Regions from separate parts of the Homo sapiens genome. Here all the other regions are linked to region 1. Evidence: fine-mapped expression QTL. A gene starts in region 1. Each other region holds a variant in brackets. All regions are shown on one strand. Distances are from middle to middle. Region 1 holds the start of SNHG16 (small nucleolar RNA host gene 16). Region 2 overlaps RHBDF2 (rhomboid 5 homolog 2). Region 3 holds the start of MIR6868 (microRNA 6868).

Region 1 (2,680 bases):
GCTCTTGAAGAGCTTACAATCAAATGAAAGGAGGTAAACATAAGCAAATGTGGTAATTTGAAGATAAGTATCTGCAACATATTACCATCTGCAGGACAATATAACCCACACCGAAGGCCACAGAGATCACTGTTAATGGGTGGATGAGAACAGGGAGACTGGAATGGAGAAAAGGCTCTCGGTCTTGCAAACTTAAACTAGCTTTCAAATAGGTGCAAATTCTGGCCCTGATTGTTGATGTCGTTTTTGCCTTATTTTTATTTCAAAAACGAAGCCAGACCGGGCGCAGTGGCTCACCTTTGTAATCCCAGCACTTTGGGAGGCCAAAACAGGAGGACTGCTTGAGGCCAGGAGTTTGAGACCAACCCGGGCAACATAGTGAGACCTCATCTCTGCAAAATAAAAATAATCAGCTGGGCGTGGTGGCGCTCGCCTGTCGTCCCGGCCACTCAGGAGGCTGAGGCGGGAGGATCACTTGAGCCCGGGAGGTCCAGGCTACAATAAGTTATGATTGCACCACTGCACTCCAGCCTGCGTGCCAGGGTGAAACCTTATCTCAAAAACAAACCAAAAAAACCCAGAAACAAAAAAAAATGAAGCCAAGGTGTTTGCCTGAAAAATAACACTCAGAAGAGCAGTGGGTGTTACATCATTCTCCGTTCTTTTCGTAATTCAGCTCGTGACACTTGCCTTTTTTTCTCTTCTCGGAATGCCCCGGGCCCCTGGGCAGCCGCGGAGGCCGAGCCCCGTCGCTCTCCAGCGCTCCTTGCCGCCCGCGCCTCGGCTTCACCGGCCTCGCCCCAAACTTAAAAACACCTGAGCAGGAGGTTGAACGATTCCCTCGGAATCTCTCCTCTTCACTAACCCAGCGAACCACCCCAAATGCCCCTATCCTCCCCCAAATAAAATCCGCAGAGCAATTAACAAAGATACTCGGCCAAGCCCCGGTTTCCTCATCTGTCCCTGCCCCCTCGAACTTTCTGTGCTTCCCCAGTCTCGACCAGGGACAAACTGTGTTGAAGCTCAATGACTTTCTGGCAGAAGTGAACCTCCAGCTTCGTTTTCTGACAGCCGTGGTTCTTCACAGGCCTGGTTTCCCACTCCGGACCCTCCACTGCCCCTGGTGGCGGCCACCATCTTACCCCCAGCTCCAGGGTCGCGCTGAGGACGCGGCCAGCCCCCAGCCGCCGTAGTTTTGAACTACATTTCCCACCAGCCCTTTCTCAACATCGCGAGAGTTCCGGAGAGATTGCCGAGAAGACTTGCGCGCAGGGGCGGTCTCGCGTTCTTTTCGAGGTCGGCCGCGTGGCTGGAAGACATGGCCACTCCAGTCGGTGTTGAGCACGGCGAGCAGTCTCAGGCCTTTAGTGATGATGGTAAGGCTGCCTGGGTGGGAAAACGGGGTCTTCCTTGACACGACACTAACATACTTGGCTTCCCTTCCTCAGAGACGAAGTGGTGACGATAATCTCGGTTTCTCCCTCATAGGGTGGTTAGGAGGGTTAAAAGTACTGGATGAGAAAATGCTTTCCAAACGTTGAGAAAATGTTACTATGTGAAGGGAGAGAGCTCAAGCCCGTCCTCGGCGTCATAGGGCCGGCTTCTGCGGGGGAGAGCGCCTAACAACCTGGGCAGCCCCGTGCGCCTCCGCCGCGCGTGTGCTGAGCGTCATGCCCAGGGGTCTTCGGTGCCCGCGCACGGGCAGACTCTGACGATGGTGGTTCTTAATTCAGCATCAGGAGTGTTAACGTGTGAAGACGTGATTCCGCTTGGAGTGTCTTGAGGACGGCCCCAATCGGTAGTTCATATTTAGCTTTACAGATAGGAGTCAATAGGATTGTAAACTTCTGGAAAGCCGTAGTTTTAACAACGAGCCTTTTTTCCTCCCCCAGAGGCCTTTCTTTGTTTGGCATCTGCAGAGACGGTGAAAAGCAGAGCTCCAGGTTGAAGGATCAGAGTAATAGATGGAGCCCTTAACATGAGTAAGAGTGGGTGCAGGCAGGGCCTGAGTGGTCACTAGAAATGAGAAAGCACAGTTGGTGCCATCACATACATTCACCTCCTGCTTTATTCTGAAGTTCAAGTATGAGAATACGTGTTGACATACAAGCCAGCTATGGTAAGAAATTACTCAAAATTCAGAATGCTAATTATTTTAATGATAAAAATGAGTAGCGTCTTTGCCCGTGTGATTTGGGGCCACTAGGTGTCATTGTAACCAGCGTGGATCCTCGTTAGGGCATGCAGGGATGAAAGAGACATGGCAAATGAATTTTGGATCGCTAGGATTTAGGAATCTTTGTTATTGGCTGAGCTGAGGATGATTTAAAGTTATCCCTGTCTGAAATGGTATCTTTTGTGAGGAGGTCTGACTTGCTGAGGCTCAGCTGTTTAATACAAATCTGGAGAATAAACCTTAAGGTGGTTTCTGTTAGAATGAAGCCTGTTATCCTTCTCTTTTAGATTAAAGGTGGTGGCTGTGGCCTTGAAAACAGTCATGTGAAAACTCATCACCTTAAGGTGTTAAGTGTAAGGATCTTCATGATGAAATTTCTGTAAATGGTGAGATTTTTAGTACTTTCATAGACTTGAATATGCTTATGGTCCTCTTTAAGTATTGGTTTGTTAGTTTTGGGGATGTGTTGGTCTTCCAGGGTTACGATTGCCCAGATAATGGAAG
Region 2 (2,795 bases), 63 kb before region 1:
TCCCCAGCTCCCTTGCCACAGAAACTGAAACTCATTTTCCCTGCCTGTGGCCCTGCTGGGAACCAGGGCATTTTTAGAAAGCTGCAAAGAGGAAGCTGAGCCTCACCCACTGTGCAATCCCCAGCAAAACCCGTGGTACTGCTGACCCCGGGGTTTCTCCAGCCCCAGAGGCCCGGAAGGACAGCTCATGGCACAGCTGTTCTTACACCTCCCCATGCATCCCCAAGCTGGGCCTCACGTAGCCAGTGACGCTGCCCTGGCAAGAGGTAGAAGGGGCAAGAGTAAAGGGCAGGAAAGTGGCAAGAAGGCTGGCTGGGGGCCTGGGGGCAGAATTTGGGGAGAGTCATGAGAGGCAAAACAGAAGGGCAGGGTTGGCATGAGCTGCGGCGTGAGCTCCACCGGCAGAGTTAGCAGAGGGGAGAGGGGGCTGGGGACTCTGAGGGTGGGACACCCAGCTGTCTGTCTCCAGGAGCCAAACAGGAGCCACTCTCCCTCCCTCTCAGCACCACCTCCCCAGAGGCCGGAGCTGGTGGCAAGTGGGCGCAGACACGATCTCAACCCACTCCGCCGGTACACGCTTCAGCCCACAGCTGCTGATGGAGAGAAACAAAACGGCCTGTGGGTTCACACAGCTCCCCAGACATCCCACGAACAGCGGGTCCTGGCCCAGAGAGCTGTTTCTTTCTCCTCCTCGCCCCTCCAGGGCTTGCCTCGAACTCAGTTCAGAAGATCAAGAACCCCCAGGGGCAGCTTCAGGGGACTGACCATCCCCTGACTTCTCTGGGCTTTTTCCTATCCGGCCCCAGGCTCTGGGCTCCCCTTAACCCGGTTAGAGTGGCTGGGGCGTCATAAGCCAACCACAGACACGGGAAGCGGGTGCTGTGCTCCAGGGAGCCGCCAAGATCAGGGGTGTGAGGTGTGAACCTGTGTGTGTGTGTTGCGGGGGGCTGGGGGGTGACATGTCATGTTCTTAGGGTGGTGCAGCCCCTGACGCCCCCTCTGCACCAACCATCTGGGCTTTCTCAGGACCAGTTGCCAGCAGGGATGGCAGAGATACAAATGCCCCCTCCTCGGCTGGGGTTCCTGGTCCAGGAAGCAGGCTGAGCTGGGGGTGCTGGAGTCCTGCATCCCCGAAGCCCAATGTGCAGCAGCTGCTGGCAAGACACAGGGGTGGGCACCAAAGGAGGTGGCAGTGCAGCCAGGCCTCGAGCTGGACACAGCGCTGGGCCCCACCCACCACAGTGCCCTCCCCTGGAAATTTCTGGATTTCAAAAGCTGCTGGTGGAGGCTGGGCACAGTGGCTCACACCTGTAATCCCAGCACTTT[G/C]GGAGGCTGAGGTGGGCAGATCACCTGAGGTCAGGAGTTCTAGACTAGCCTGGCCAACATGGTGAAACCCCATCTCTACTAAAAATACAAAAATTAGCCAGGCATGGTGGCGGGTGCCTGTAATCCCAGCTACTGAGGAGGCTGAGGCAGAAGAATCGCTTGAACCTGGGAGGCGGAGGTTGAAGTGAGCCGAGATCACGCCACTGCACTCCAGCCTGGGCGACAGAGCAAGACTCCATCTCAAAAAACACACAGACAAAATAAAACAAAGCTGCTGATGGAGGCAGGCAAGTGGCAGCAGCTGGGCGGGGATGCAGGTGCCTTCCACATCCCAGGGAAGAGGCAGCAGCTCCCGAGCCTGGGGCTGGACTGCAGGCTTTGGGGCAATGAAGGGAAGGGGGCACGCACAGCAGCCGGGCCCCAGTTCTCCTGCTCCCTCAGCATCGTTGTGAAGGGGAGGAGTCAGAAGTGGCCCCTGGGGGCCAAAAGGCCCTGTCCATTTGGGGTCAGACACCAGGACACTGGAGGGTTTCCGGGGTGGGGTGTGCACCACACAGTGCCACAGCAACACAGGCTCGGTGGGAACTGCCCTTTGCTGCAAACGTTCATGAAAGTCTGCCTCTCTGCATCCCGGCAGCCGGGTTTTCACGGGTCCTTGGAAGCAGTGGTGGTCCAGCACAAGCCCAGCGGTTGGGGCAGGATGAGATGCAGCCTGGGGTCTGTGTGAGAGGTCCGTTTCACTCCTGCTGGAGGCTCCTTGACACTAAGGTGTGACCAGGCCATTTCCGTTTGTGACTGTCCCATGTACACAGACAGGGCACTGTCCTGTGCTTACAAAGTAGGAGCCCACCCGGTTTCCACCTGCCTCCAGACAGTGAAAATCTGTCCCGATGGCAGAAGACAGGGTCACAGGCCCATCTCTAACCACTGTGCGATCTTGGGCAAGCCACTTAACATCTCTGAGCCTCAGTTTGTGTATGCATAAGATGCTAGTATCCTCCCAGGGTCTAAGATCTATGTGACTTTGTCACCATGAACGAGGGCTCACCCCAGGAACAGCTCAGCTGAGGTACAAGGTCTCACCTATTGTACAGAGAGGTAAGCACCTTGCCCAGTGCCACCCAGCCAGAAATAGGCCTGGACTGGCTGGGTGTGAGCATGCAGAGCCCAGGGAGCCGACGGCATCCCTGGGCCCTCACCTCGACACACTCAGAGCGCTTCTGGAGGCCCAGTTCTGCCTCCGGCTGCATGGAGCCCCTCAGCAGGGAGGGAAAATGCCAGGCAGACACTTCTGAGCTTGTAAACGGTCATTAAGGAACTAATAAACCTGATTTCCCAGAACGTTGCCCTGGGGCTCCCTGCTTCCCAGGGAAGAGGCTGGCCCTAGCCCCAGTGACTGCCAGGGTTTCAGGACACGGGGACACCAGGTTGCTTGTCCCAAGCAGGCCTGCAAAGCCACGTGCTTATGG
Region 3 (2,795 bases), 460 kb before region 1:
GGTCTCGAACTCCTGAGCTGAAGCGATCCACTCACCTCAGCCTCCCAAACTGTTAGGATTACAGGCATAGCCACAGCACCTGGCATAAATAAACCTTAATAGTGCTCATCTTTGGCTTATGTAATGGAGGCATCAGGGAATGGGAGATGGACTTTTACTTTTCACCCATGGCTTTGAAAATTTTACAACTAATCAAAAAAGGCAAAGGAACATAAAAATCAAGACAAGAAAAGTTTGAATTTGCCTAGATTCACCACTTGATATACAAGTCATAGAATGGTTGCTTATATTCTTATATTGGTTCCAGTTAAACATCCTTTTATCAAAAAAACCATGACAGGTGGATTAAAGAATAAAGGGGGCCAGGCATGGTGGCTCACATCTGTAATCCCAGCACTTTGGGAGGCTGAGGTGGGCAGATCACCTGAGGTCAGAAGTTCAAGACCAGCCTGGCCAACATGGTGAAACCCCATCTCTACTAACAATACAAAACTTAGCCAGGCATGGTGGCATGCGCCAGTAATCCCAGCTACTCGGGAGGCTGAGGCAGGAGAATCGCTGGAACCCGGGTATGCAGAGGCTGCAGCAAGCCGAGTTGCACCATTGCACTCCAGCATGGGCAACAGAGCAAGACTCCATCTCAAAAAAAAAAAAAAAAAAAAAAAAAAAAGAACAAAGGGGAGAAAACTCCCTCTGCCTCTGGTGTGTCATGTGGCCAAGCCAGAATCCCTTACCTTGGTTGCGGCCATATTCCACCAGCCAGCGGGAGATGCGAATGACATCCTGGAGCACGCTCTCGGGCAGGTGCTCCAGGGTCACGTCCTCCTGGGCCTCCAGATCATCGTCACCACTGATCAGATCCAAGATGAGCACGGGCGAGACGACCTTACTGTGCCGCGTCATCAGGCTGCGAAATTCGGACTCCAGGGCCTCCTTCCCGCGCTCAAAGAGCAGTTTCTGCACAGACAACAGAAGGAAGCAGGTGCCTGCTGCTTCAGTGTTCTGCCAGTCCTGGCCTTCCCCTGCCTGTGCCAGCTCTGTCTTCTTAACTCAGGGCCTCTGCCCTTTTCTGCCCTGATATCTTTTTTTTTTTTGAGAGGGAGTCTCGCTCTGTCACCAGGCTGGAGTGCAGTGACACAATCTTGGCTCACTGCAACCTCCGACTTCCTGGTTCAAGCAATTCTCCTGCCTCAGCCTCCTGAGCAGCTGGGATTACAGGCACGTGCCACCATGCCCAGATAATTTTTGTATTTTTAGTAGAGACGGGGTTTCACCATGTTGGCAGGATGGTCTTGATCTCCTGACCTCAGGTGATCCACCCGCCTCAGCCTCCCAAAGTGCTGGGATTACAGGCATGAGCCACTGCACCTGGCCTGCCCTGATATCCTTTAACCCAAAGAAGAAACGCTGGGAAGCGGCCTTGGTGACTCCTT[T/C]ACTTCATGTTCTCTCAAAATTTGTGTTTACAGGTAAAACCCAGGGTTTTACAAGAAGTAGGTGCTTAATAAATACTGGCTGATTGGCCGTGCACGGTGGCTCACGCCTGTAATCCCAGCACTTTGGGAGGCCGAGGCGGGCAGATCACAAGGTCAGGAGATCGAGACCATCCTGGCTAACAAGGTGAAACTCCATCTCTACTAAAAATACAAAAAAAAAAATTAGCCGGGCGTGGTGGTGGGCACCTGTAGTCCCAGCTACTCGGGAGGCTGAGGCAGGAGAAAGGTGTGAACCCAGGAGGCGGAGCTTGCAGTGAGCCAAGATTGCGTCACTGCACTCCAGCCTGGGTAACAGAGTGAGACTCCGTCTCAAAAAAAAAAAAAAAAAAATACTGGCCGATTATTTTCTCACTGAACCGTTAATTTGTCTTCTTGTTAGTGGGGGGTTTGCAAAAGAAAATAAATAAATAAATTGAACAATATCAAGTTGAAAACTTTTGTGCTGCAAATGATACCACCAACAAAGTGAGGATAACCCACAGAATGAGAGAAAATATTTGTAAACTATGTATCTGATAAAAGACAGGTATCCCAAACATAAAAGAGAATGAATCTGTCCACACGATGACATATATAAGAGGGTTTATAGCAGCATTATTCACAAGAGACAAAAATTGGAAACAACCCAAGTGTCCATCAAAGGATAAATGGCTAAAGAAAATGTGGTCTGGCTGGGCACGGTGGCTTACGCCTGTAATCCCAGCACTTTGGGAGGCCGAGGCAAGCAGATCACCTGAGGTCAGGAGTTCAAGACCAGCCTGGCCAACATGGTGAAACCCCGTTTCTACTAAAAATACAAAAAATTAGCTCGGTGTGGTGGCAGGCACCTATAATCCCAGCTACTCGGGAGGCTGGGACAGGAGAATCGCTTGAACCCAGGAGGTGGAGGTTGCAGTGAGCCAAGATTGCGCCATTGTACTCCAGCCCGGGCAACAAGAGCATAACTCCGTCTCAAAAAACAAAACAAAACAAAAAACCAAAAAAAGAAACTGTGGTCTATCCACAAAAAGGAATATCATATGGCATGAAAATGAAATGAAGTACTGATACATGCTATAGCATGGATTGATCTTGAAAGCATCACGCTAAGTGAAAGAGGCCAGTCACAAAAGGCCATGTATTATAAGATACCATTTATATTAGAAATTCAGAATAGGCAAATCCATAAAGACAGAAAATAGATTTGTGATTTCCAGAGGCCAAGTCACCATCTTGCTCTGATGATCTAATGACCCCAAAACTTAAACACAAAAATATGATGAAGGCAGGTACAGTGGGTAATGCCCGTAATCCCTCCCAACA

What was found. PIP is the estimated chance that this variant, and not a neighbour inherited with it, causes the effect.
Region 2: its variant is fine-mapped to the expression of SNHG16 in whole blood (INTERVAL, PIP 0.97).
Region 3: its variant is fine-mapped to the expression of SNHG16 in spleen (GTEx, PIP 0.96).

What each region holds. Positions count from the first base shown.
Region 1 is chr17:76,556,482-76,559,161 of GRCh38, forward strand. SNHG16 (small nucleolar RNA host gene 16) reads left to right here and starts at 1,283. Exons shown (of 3, transcript NR_038111.1): 1 at 1,283-1,376. It overlaps SNORD1C (small nucleolar RNA, C/D box 1C), which reads left to right and starts at 2,309; the gene lies at 2,309-2,388. RefSeq lists enhancers at 314-413, 903-1,703, 1,104-1,363, 1,704-2,505.
Region 2 is chr17:76,493,184-76,495,978 of GRCh38, forward strand. All of the region lies in intron 1 of RHBDF2 (rhomboid 5 homolog 2), which reads right to left. Among named protein-coding and RNA genes, the nearest start is that of RHBDF2, 6.8 kb to the right of the region's middle. The variant G/C (reference allele first, on the strand shown) is at 1,327.
Region 3 is chr17:76,097,062-76,099,856 of GRCh38, forward strand. EXOC7 (exocyst complex component 7) reads right to left here. Exons shown (of 19, transcript NM_001013839.4): 5 at 735-957. MIR6868 (microRNA 6868) reads right to left here and starts at 1,015; the gene lies at 958-1,015. The variant T/C (reference allele first, on the strand shown) is at 1,434.